Regions from separate parts of the Homo sapiens genome. Here region 1 is linked to region 2. A link means that fine-mapping ties the variant in region 2 to the expression of a gene that starts in the linked region. Tissue or cell type: esophagus mucosa. Region 2 holds a variant in brackets; the other region holds the start of a gene. All regions are shown on one strand. Distances are from middle to middle.

The links. PIP is the estimated chance that this variant, and not a neighbour inherited with it, causes the effect.
Region 1: it holds the start of ARHGAP8, and the variant in region 2 is fine-mapped to the expression of ARHGAP8 in esophagus mucosa (GTEx, PIP 0.93).

Annotation. Positions count from the first base shown.
Region 1 is chr22:44,750,432-44,754,431 of GRCh38, forward strand. It overlaps ARHGAP8 (Rho GTPase activating protein 8), which reads left to right and starts at 2,144. Exons shown (of 12, transcript NM_181335.3): 1 at 2,144-2,196. The region is part of intron 4 of PRR5-ARHGAP8 (PRR5-ARHGAP8 readthrough); the gene reads left to right.
Region 2 is chr22:44,860,345-44,866,456 of GRCh38, forward strand. PRR5-ARHGAP8 (PRR5-ARHGAP8 readthrough) reads left to right here. Exons shown (of 15, transcript NM_181334.6): 15 at 1,931-2,440. The coding sequence ends at 2,251. ARHGAP8 (Rho GTPase activating protein 8) reads left to right here. Exons shown (of 12, transcript NM_181335.3): 12 at 1,931-2,440. The coding sequence ends at 2,251. LOC105373062 (a long non-coding RNA gene) reads right to left here and starts at 3,895. Exons shown (of 4, transcript XR_938302.3): 1 at 3,765-3,895; 2 at 3,107-3,277; 3 at 2,644-2,867. LOC124905133 (a long non-coding RNA gene) reads right to left here. Exons shown (of 4, transcript XR_007068129.1): 1 at 5,450-6,112; 2 at 5,072-5,217; 3 at 4,609-4,831; 4 at 3,935-3,969. RefSeq lists an enhancer at 3,229-3,982. The variant G/C (reference allele first, on the strand shown) is at 3,048.

The DNA of each region.
Region 1 (4,000 bases), 110 kb before region 2:
GTGGAAAGCAGCTTGGAGATTTCTCAAAGAACTTAAAATAGAACTACCCTTCAACCCAGCAATCCCGTTAGTGGGTACACACCCAAAAGAAAAGAAATCTTTCTACCAAAAAGCCATCTGCACTCATATGTGCATAGCAGCACTATTCACTATAGGTTAGATATGGGGTCAACTGAGGTGCCCATCAATAGTGGATTGGATAAAGAAAATGTGGTACATTTCCAACATGGAATACTATGCAGTCATGAAAAAGAATGAAATCTTGTCCTTTGCAGCAACATAGATGCAGCTGGAAGCCATTATCCTAAGTGAATTCATGCAGAAACAGAAAACCAAATATGACATGTCTCACTTCTAAGGGGGAGCTAAACCTTGGGTACCCACAGATATAAAGATGGGAACAAAAGACATTGGGGACTCCAGAAGGGTGGGGGGAGTAGGGCAAGGGCTGAAAAACTTCCTATTGGGTACTGTGCTCACTACCTGGGTAAGGAGATCAACAGAAAACCAAACCTCAGTGTCACCCAATATATCCCCTAACAAACCTGCACATGTACCCCTTGAATCTAAAATAAAAATAAAAATAATAAGTTGTTGATTGGCTACACATTTTTCTCTGTATCACAAGTTGCAGGAACATGCAGATAATGGGTGAGGCAGTGAGTCAGGAACAAAATGCCTTTAAACCATGGCCCCCACGGCCGGGTGCGGTAGCTCATGCCTGTAATCCCAGCACTTTGGGAGGCCGAGGTGAGTGGATCACTTGAGGTCAGGAGTTCAAGACTAGCCTGGCAAACATGGTGAAACCCCGTCTCTACCAAAAATACAAAAAATTAGCTGGACATGGTGGCAGGCCCCTGTAATCCCAGCTACTTGGGAGGCTGAGGCAGGAGAATTGCCTGAACCCAGGAGGTGGAGGTTGCAGTGAGCTGAGATCGCGCCATTGCACTCTCAGCCTGGGTAACAAAGCAAGACTCTAAAAACAAAAACAAAAAACAAACAAACAAACAAAAAACTATGGCCCCCCAAGCACTGCAGGGGGACCTGGACTGAAGTCCTATACTACTGTTTCTCTGGGCCTGATATATTTTGTTGTATCTAAGCTGCTTTCCTCAGATACAAATCCTTCAACAAACCCTAGGGAAAATTTCCTCTCAAGTCCCTCCAATTCTCCCAGTTCTGCCACGCTTTGTACACCCCTAACGAAAGGGGCCAGGTGCAGTAGCTCAGGCACGTAATCCCAACACTTTGAGAGGCTGAGGAGGGTGGATCACTTGAGCCCAGGAGTTCCAGACCAGCCTGGACAACATGGCAAGACTCCTGTCTCTACAAAAACTACAAAAATTAGCTGGGTATGGTGGTGCACACCTGCGGTCCCAGCTACTCGGGAAGCTGAGGCCGGAGGATCGCCTGAATCCAGGAGGTAGAGGCTGCAGTGAACCAAGTTCAAGACACTGCACTCCAGCCTGAACAGAGCGAGACCCCTGTCTCAAAAAAGTAAAATTAAAAATGGGGCCCGGCGCAGTGGCTCACGCCTGTAATTTCAACACTTTGGGAGGTGGAGGCGGGAGGATCGTTTGAGGTTGGGAGTTCGAGACCAGCCTGGCCAACATGGTGAAACCCGGTCTCCACTAAAAATACAAAACTTAGCCGGGCTTGGCGGCGCACGTCTGTAATCCCATCTACTATGAAGGCTGAGGTGGGAGGATCGCTTGAACTCGGGAGGTTGAAGCTGCAGTAAGCCGAGATCGCGCCACTGCACTCCAGCCTGGGCGACAGCGCGAGACTCCGTCTCAAAATAAATAAATAAATACATACATACATAAAGTAAAATAATGAATAAATAAAATAAGAAATGGGGAAATGGATCAGCAAGAAAGTGCCCGCCCCAGGCATGGGTGCCGTGCGGGACGGGGACGCGGCCCAGCCGGGAATCGGGGTGCCCAGGGTGCGATGTGCGAGGGGCTCCTGAGCGCGTGTGCTCCGCCCGACCCCGCCCTGTCCCCCCGACACACAGGTGGACCCAGGGTCAGCTCGTGCACCTGGGAAATGGCTCCCGCCGGGTAGCAGGGGCGGAGGGGCGGGGCTGGGCGGAGGGGCGGGGGGGCGGGGCCTGCCCGGGAGCCACGTCCGGGGAGGGGCCAGGTGAGCGGCAGACCCGGCACGCAGGTGGGGGCCGGCGGGGTCCGTGGCCAGGTAAGGCGGGCGGCGGCGGGAGGGAGCGCGCAGGGAGGAGGCCGTGCTCGGGGTGGGGGGGTGCGCCGCGGGGGCTCCCAGGGCGTGTACGGGGACAAGGGGCCGCTGGCCGGGTAGGGACGCCCAGGCGGGCGCGACGCCACGTGCGGCCGGGGGGAGACCCTCCGGCCGGCGCGCAGCCTCCGGGTCCCCTGTGGGTTCTAGACTCCCTCTCCCTTCACCTCCTTTCTTTCCCGCCCCCCCACACTCCCCTCCTCTGCTTTTTCCCCTGTCCTGTTCCTTCTCACCCCGCACCGCCTTCCCCGCCCTCGCCTCTCTCAGCCTGCGTTTTGGTCTGGTCTGGCCGGACGGTGTCAGCTCAAATGTTCCTTTTTTGCTTCCGTCCTGGGGTCTCAGGTTAGGTCGGGTCAGCGCCTGGGGGAGGCACCTCCCCCGCCCCCACACACCCCAAACCTACAAGGTGGGTGAGGTCATTCCCGTTTCATAGATGAGAAAACGGAGGCCGGGGCAGGTGCTGCGCTGATTCAAACTCAGGGGGTGGGGGGCTGGCCGGTTCAACACACAGCGGTGGAACCCCCCGGGAGTTAAAAGCAGAAACTTTTTTTTTTTTTTTTGACACCGAGTCTTGCTCTGTCCCCAGGCTGGATTGCAGTGTTGCATCTCTGCTCACTGCAACCTCCGCCTCCTGGGTTCAAGCGATTCTTGTGCCTCAGCCTCCCGAGTAGCTGGGATTACAGGGACTGACACCATGCCAGCTAATTTTTTGTATTTTTAGTACAGACAGGGTTTCACCATGTTGTCCAGGCTGGTCTCGACCACCTGACCTCAGGTGATCCGTCTTCCTGGGCCTCCCAAAGTGCTGGGATTACAGTCGTGAGACACCGCGCCCGGCCTAAAAGCCCAAAGTTTAAACCAATCCGCTAGCAGCCTCGGAGGTCGTCAGGAAGGCAGGGAGGCCCTGCCTTTCACTTTCCCTCAATCCTGTGGGGGGTGGGGGGGCTCCTGAGAATCCCTCGGGCTCTGCCACACCCTGACTTGGAAATTTCTCCGCTGCCTTGGGAGGAGTGTGAAGGCCCCGGAGAAGGAACCGCAGAGTCCACCCGGGAAGGAGGGTGGGATTGTTTGGCGGGATGGGGACAGCACCTTGGCCACCGACTTCAGGGTTTTGTGACAGAGGCTGTGTAGATTCCAGAGAGCTCTGTGCCGTCCCTCGCTTGCCTGTGAAATGCAGTGTTGGCATTTGTCCAGCTGAGAACTCAATGCTTAAGACTCAGCCGTTTCAGAAGTCGATGTCCTTTGGTTGGCCTCTCTGTTGGCAGCTTTAGGATCATGTTTGTGGACTCCTCATTCGATTCACTGACTAACCATTCCCCAAACCAACGCCAGAGTTGGGGGTAGGGCGAAGAGGGACATGGGATGTGGGCCTGAGCCCAGCTGATTCTTGTGGACAGCCAGCTGCCTGGTCCCTGCCCTCAGGGGCCCAGAGTCTGGCTTCTGTGTAGAGAGAATCCAAGGGTTTGTGGGAGCTTAGGAAGGGCTTCCTGGAGGAGGTGGCCATTGAGCTGGAAGGTGGATGGGAGGTGGATGGGGAAGAGAATGGCACCTACTGGCTAGGGATACTTCGCTTGTGAGGTACGGGTGGAAAAGTCCATGGAGTGCCTGACGGGGTGGGCCAATTTACTTGGATAACATCATTGGGTCATTGAAACTTTGTGTGTGTGTGTGTGTGTGTGTGTGTGTGTGTGTGACGCAGTTTTCGCTCTTGTCGCCCAGGCTGGAGTGCAATGGCACGATCTCAGCTCAC
Region 2 (6,112 bases):
TCCAGAGGCTCTAGGGAAGGTTCCCCTTCCTGGCCTCTCCCAGCTCCTGGTCACTCCAGCTATGCCTCCAGCTCCCCCCTGGCCTTTGTCTGTGTGTGTGTCTAATCTCCCTCCACCTTTCCCTCCTAAGTGTGGACCCCCTGCCATATGTCACTGGGTTTAGGACCCACCCAGATGACGCGGGATGATCTCATCTTGAGATCCTCAACGACAGCTGCAACGGCCCTCGTTCCAAATAAGGTCACAGTCAGATTCTCTGTGGTCTATCTTAGAGGGGCCACCATTCAATCTACTACACACCAGGCTAAGCAAATGACCAGAGAGAGAGAAACCCTTCAGTGCTCTGGGCCTGGGCTTAGTGTGCTCTCCCCCTGGGGCAGGGATCCATTTGGAGCAAAAACCTGTGCAGCCAACAGGGGAAGGTTCAACACATCCACGTGGGTCCACCCCCAACCCCCAGACCCACGGCCTTGAATGTTTAACCCCCTCCATCTCTCCAGGCCTTCGCCCCAGGCTGTGCAGGGTGAGGAGAGCCTGAGCAGAGTAGGCGTCACATCCCAGAGTCTGTTGGAGAATGTCACTTCTTGGTTTTACAACAATTTTTTTTCTCCCTGTTGCTTGACATAATTTCTCAGAGGCCCAAAACTAAACTCTCCTAATTCTCTCAAAAAAATTTTTTGAGACAGTCTTGCTCTGTTGCCCTAGCTGGTGTGCACTGGTGCAATCTCAGCTCACTGCAACCCCAGCCTCCCACGTAGCTGGGATTACAGGTGAGAACCACCATGCCCGGCTAATTTTTGTTTTTTTAGTAGAGATGGGGTTTCGTCACATTGGCCAGGCTGATCTTGAACTCCTGACCTCAGGTGATCCACCTGCCTCGGCCTCTTAAGAGTGCTGGGATTACAGGTGTGAGCCACTGCACCCAGCCTACTTCTTTTTCATTAGGAGAGACTGATTTCTCTCTCTAGCCGCCACCTCCATGGGCACCGATGTGAATGCACCTGGTGGGGTGTGGTGTTGCGTGTTATCACCCCAGTGGCACCTGGGGGCCTCGGCTTGAGGAGGGGTGGCCTGCAGTGGGCCTGGCTGGTGCACACCTGCAACGGGCTTGGGGGACCGGCAGCCAGGGGGAGCCTGAAAGGCATCCAGCCATCTCACCTGAGCATCCTCAACAGATCTGTGAGGGTGGTGCCTGGCCCTGCCTCCCTCCAGTTCTCTGCTCTGCCCTGGTACTCACCGCCTCATGACCCCTGTTTCTGACTGAGGTTCCCCCCAGCTTGAATCTTGTAGGGAGGCAAGGAGCAGAGAACAGGCCCTGCCCTCACGTTGGTCCACATGGCCCCCTGCCACTGGCTGGCCACATGACCTTGGGCAAGTCTCCTGTACCTTCCAGGCCCCAGATTCCTCATCTGTAAGATGGGGAGTAATGACTCCCCCGTGCTGGGGTTGCACGTGTTGGCGGAGATGGACAAGGAGCCCCTTCTAGCAGGCAAGCTCTTTCCACTCTCCCTGCCCCTCGTAGTGGCCCCTAGATGTGCTGGCTGGTCCCCATCATGCCCAGTTCGCCACTCACAGAGCCGAGGCCAGAGAGGTCACCAAGTTCGTACCGTCTGTGCTACAGCCCATCCCCAAGATTGCATCTCCCCAGAAGGTGCAGTGGAAGAGGAGATAGTGGGGGGTTGAGGCTGTCACAGAAGGTCAGAGCCAGAGGGTCCTCCAGGACATGGAGGCCAAGCCTTCCTTTTAGAGATAGGGTAACTAAGGCCCTGAGTGGGCAGGTGGCTGCACAGGGTCCCCATTACTGGCTGCCGGCTCCCAGTCCAGTGCTCCTCTCACTACACCTACGCCTCTCCCTAAGTTCGGGAGGGAGTTCCAGGTGCCCGTGCCCCTTGGTGTTCACTCCCCTTTACTTGTGTGTGGTTTCCTCCAGGTGTCCCGGGAGAGCATCTTCAACAAAATGAACAGCTCTAACCTGGCCTGTGTCTTCGGGCTGAATTTGATCTGGCCATCCCAGGGGGTCTCCTCCCTGAGTGCCCTTGTGCCCCTGAACATGTTCACTGAACTGCTGATCGAGTACTATGAAAAGATCTTCAGCACCCCGGAGGCACCTGGGGAGCACGGCCTGGCACCATGGGAACAGGGGAGCAGGGCAGCCCCTTTGCAGGAGGCTGTGCCACGGACACAAGCCACGGGCCTCACCAAGCCTACCCTACCTCCGAGTCCCCTGATGGCAGCCAGAAGACGTCTCTAGTGTTGCGAACACTCTGTATATTTCGAGCTACCTCCCACACCTGTCTGTGCACTTGTATGTTTTGTAAACTTGGCATCTGTAAAAATAACCAGCCATTAGATGAATTCAGAACCTTCTAATGAAAACTCCATGCCTCTGGTCCTTGGACTCTTGTCCATGGTTCCTGAGCTGTGGACCGGGATAGAATAATGCATTTGTTAGGATGGATGTTTTGAATCCCAACCCAATGTGGTTTAACTGAAAACAGGAATGGAGTGGCTAACGGCTGCCAGGTCCTGCTGCTGCCACACTGCTGTGTAACACACCACCTAAGCCCAGTCACTGAAAGTTACTGCCCAGGAGTCAGTGGGTCAGCTGGGTGGTTCTATTGGTCTTTTGAGGGGGTCACTTACATGTCCTGGCTGAGCTGGCTGGCAGCTGGGGTGACTCTGTTCTCCCCCAGGTGTCCCAAGTCCTTCCAATGGCCAAACGGGGCACATTCTTACAACATAGGTCCAGGTGCACACACAAGCGCTATTGCAAGCAGTTTTCATGCTTTGACTGGCGTCCTGTATGCTCACATCTCATTGGCCAAAGCAAGCCTGGTGGCCAAGGCCAGGGTCACAGAGGGAGGGCCCTGCAAAGGGGGTGGATATGGGGAGGGTGAAGAATTGGGCATAAAGCAGCCAAGCTGCCCGAGGGCTCTGGGGTGCGACAGGACTCTGCAGTCTCAGGCAGGCTGACTCTTGGGCTGGCAAAACGGGCCCTGTATTTCCATCAGATATGGTAGAGAAGGATACAACTTCTTAGTGCCACA[G/C]TCCCAGCAAAAAAGCCCCAGGTTCACCCTGATTGGACAAGCCTAGGTCACATGCTCACCTTAGACCCATTGCTGCAGCCAGGGAAGGCTCTGATTGGCTTAGGCCTGAGTCTTGTGCCCCACCCAGACCAGGCAGTGGGGGAGGAGTGGCAGGCCGCTGCAGGGGATTACCCACGAGTCCCACGCTGCCGTCTCCCCAGCTCTTGATGCAGGGAGAAGCGGGGGAGGTTCTGGGGAGCAAAGGACAAAAGTCCCCTCTACAGATCCCCCATGGTGGCCCCTCCGTGCCTGCTTGGGGTGTTGACCGAGTTGTGCCGGGACCCCCGGTACGCGTTAGGATGCTTGGGGGAATCACTGGCAGCCCCAGGCCAAACCCACACCCAGGGCTCTCCTCTGAAACTTAGAGGGTGCGGTCTCCTCGCTGGCCTCCCTCTTCACTTGTGTGTCTTCCCATTATTCCCCTGCCCCTCATCTGCCGCTGTGTGTGTTCTACCCTGCTGGTGCTCGCTGTCCTTAAGGGAGGGGCTCGTGTGGCTGCTGAGCGACCCCCCACGCCCTGCCTTCAGAACATGGATGGTACAGGGTCACGGGCATGGGGACAGGGATGGGGAGGGTTGCAGAATGGCCGTTACACCCCCTGGTAAGCTTCGTGCCATCCCAGCTGGGGATGGAGTCCCCAAATGACACCCCTCTTCTCTGCCCAAGCTCAGAACCTACCTGAGTCACACGGTATATTACTGACGGCCAATGCCTATGTTCTGCAGCAATCTCAATCCTTGCCTCCTCAGAAGAAAGAGTTCGACTGGCCGGGCGCGGTGACTCACGCCTGTAATCCCAGCACTTTAGGAAGCCAAGGCAGTTGCATCACCTGAGGTCAAGAGTTCGAGACCAGCCTGGCCAACATGGTGAAACCCCGTCTCTACTAAAAATACAAAAAATTAGCCAAGTGTGGTGGAGCACACCTGTAGTCCCAGCTACTCGGGAGGCCGAGGCAGGAGAATCGCTTGAACCCGGGAGGCAGAGGTTGCAGTGAGCCAAGATCGTGCCAGGGCATTCCAGTCTGGGCAACAGAGTGAGACTCCGTCTCAAAAAAATAAAAAAGAGAGTTCAACTGAGGGGCATAAGGATGAGTGAGAGACCGAGGACCGAGGCAAGTTTTAGAGCAGGAGTGAAAGTGTATTAAAAAACTTTAAAGCAGGAACGAAAGGAAGAAAAGTACCCTTGGAAGAAGACCAAGCGGGCGACTTGAGAGATCAAGTGGGTGGTTTGACCTTCGACCTAGGGTAGGCCGGGCACAGTGGCTCATGCCTGTAATCCCAGCACTTTGGGAGGCCAAGGCAGGTGGATCACTTGAGGTCCAGAGTTCAAGACCAGCCTGGCCAACATGGTGAAACCTTGTGTTTACTTGTCTACTCAAAATATGAAAATTAGCCAGGCAGGGGGGCAGTGGGGCCAGGGGGATGCCCAAGCCCAGTCACTGAAAGCAACTGCTGGTCATTACTGCCCATGAGTCAGTGGGTCAGCTGGGTGGTTCTATTGGTCTTTTGAGGGGATGGCTTACATGTCCTGGCTGAGCTGGCTGTCAGCCAGGGTGACTCTGTTCTCCTGCAGGTGTCCCAAATCCTCCAACGGCTAAAAGGGGCACATTCTTACAACACAGGTCCAGGCGCACACACAAGCGCTACTGCAAGCAGTTTTCATGCTTTGACTGGTGTCCTGCATGCTCACATCCCATTGGCCAAAGCAAGCCTGGTGGCCGAGGCCAGGGTCACAGTGGGAGGGCCCTGCAAAGGAGGTGGATAGGGGGAGGGTGAAGAATTGGGCATAAAACAGCCAAGCTGCCCGAGGGCTCTGGGGTGCGACAGGACTCTGCAGTCTCAGGCAGGCTGACTCCTCGGGCTGGCAAGATAGAAGCACAGGGCCCATCAAATATGGCGGAGAAGGATACAACGTCTTAGTGCCACATTCCCAGCAAAAAAGCCCCAGATTCGCCCTGATTGGACAAGCCTAGGTCACATGCTCACCTTGGACCCATTGCTGCAGCCAGGGAAGGCTCCGACTGGCTTAAGCCTGAGTCCTGCGCCCACCTAGACCTGGCAGTGGGGGAGGAGTGACAGGCCTCTGCGGGAGATTACCCGCAAGTCCCACGCTGCGGTCTCCCCAGCTCTTGCTGCAGGGAGAAATGGGGGAGGTTCTGGGGAGCAGAGGACAAAAGTCCCCTCAGCAGCGTGGGTACCTGACCGGGCCTTGGATGAGGTCCTTGGTGGCCAGGAAGTAGTATTCCGAGGCCCAAGTAGGGCATGACCCCAGACCCGGGGCAAGGAGGGGACTGGTCCATGCGGGCCCAGCATGGCAGGGAAGGCCACTGGGCTTCACCCCAAGCGCCCCCCTTGCCCACTCACCGTGTGCAGGAAGCCCATGAGGTAGCGGAGGACGACACAGTTGTGCTCCAGTGCCCCGTAGGATGGGGCGGCAGCGAGTGACGCGCAGGCTGCTCTCCACACCTGGAAGGGCATGGGGCTCCCTGCTGAGCTCCAGAGGGGCCAGGGGCAGCGCTGCATCCCGGCCCAGGGGGAGGACAGGGGCGTAGGGAGGACAGCTCTGAAGATGGACTGACTGTCCCACAGTCGGGCTTGAGACCCCCACTTAACTTTCTGGCCGTGTGTCTCTGCTCAGCAAACTTTGTGTTTGGCCGTTCTTGCATTGCTATGAAGAAATACCTGAGATGCGGTCATTTATAAGAAAAGAGGTTTAACTGGCTTATGGTTCTGCAAGCTATACAAGCATGCCACTAGCACCTGTTCAACTTCTGGGGAAGCCTCAGGAGGCTTCCAATCATGGCAGACGGCAAAAAGGAAGGAGGCGCATCACATGGCAAAAACAGGAGCAAGAGAGAGTGTGGGGCAGAGGTGCCACATGCTTTTAAACCAGATCTGGTAAGAACTCACTCACTGTCTAGAGGACAGCACCAACCCATGAGGTATCTGCTCTCATGATCCAATCACCTCCCACCAGTCCCCACCTCCAACCTTGAGGGTTCCAATTCAACATGAGATGCGCTGGGG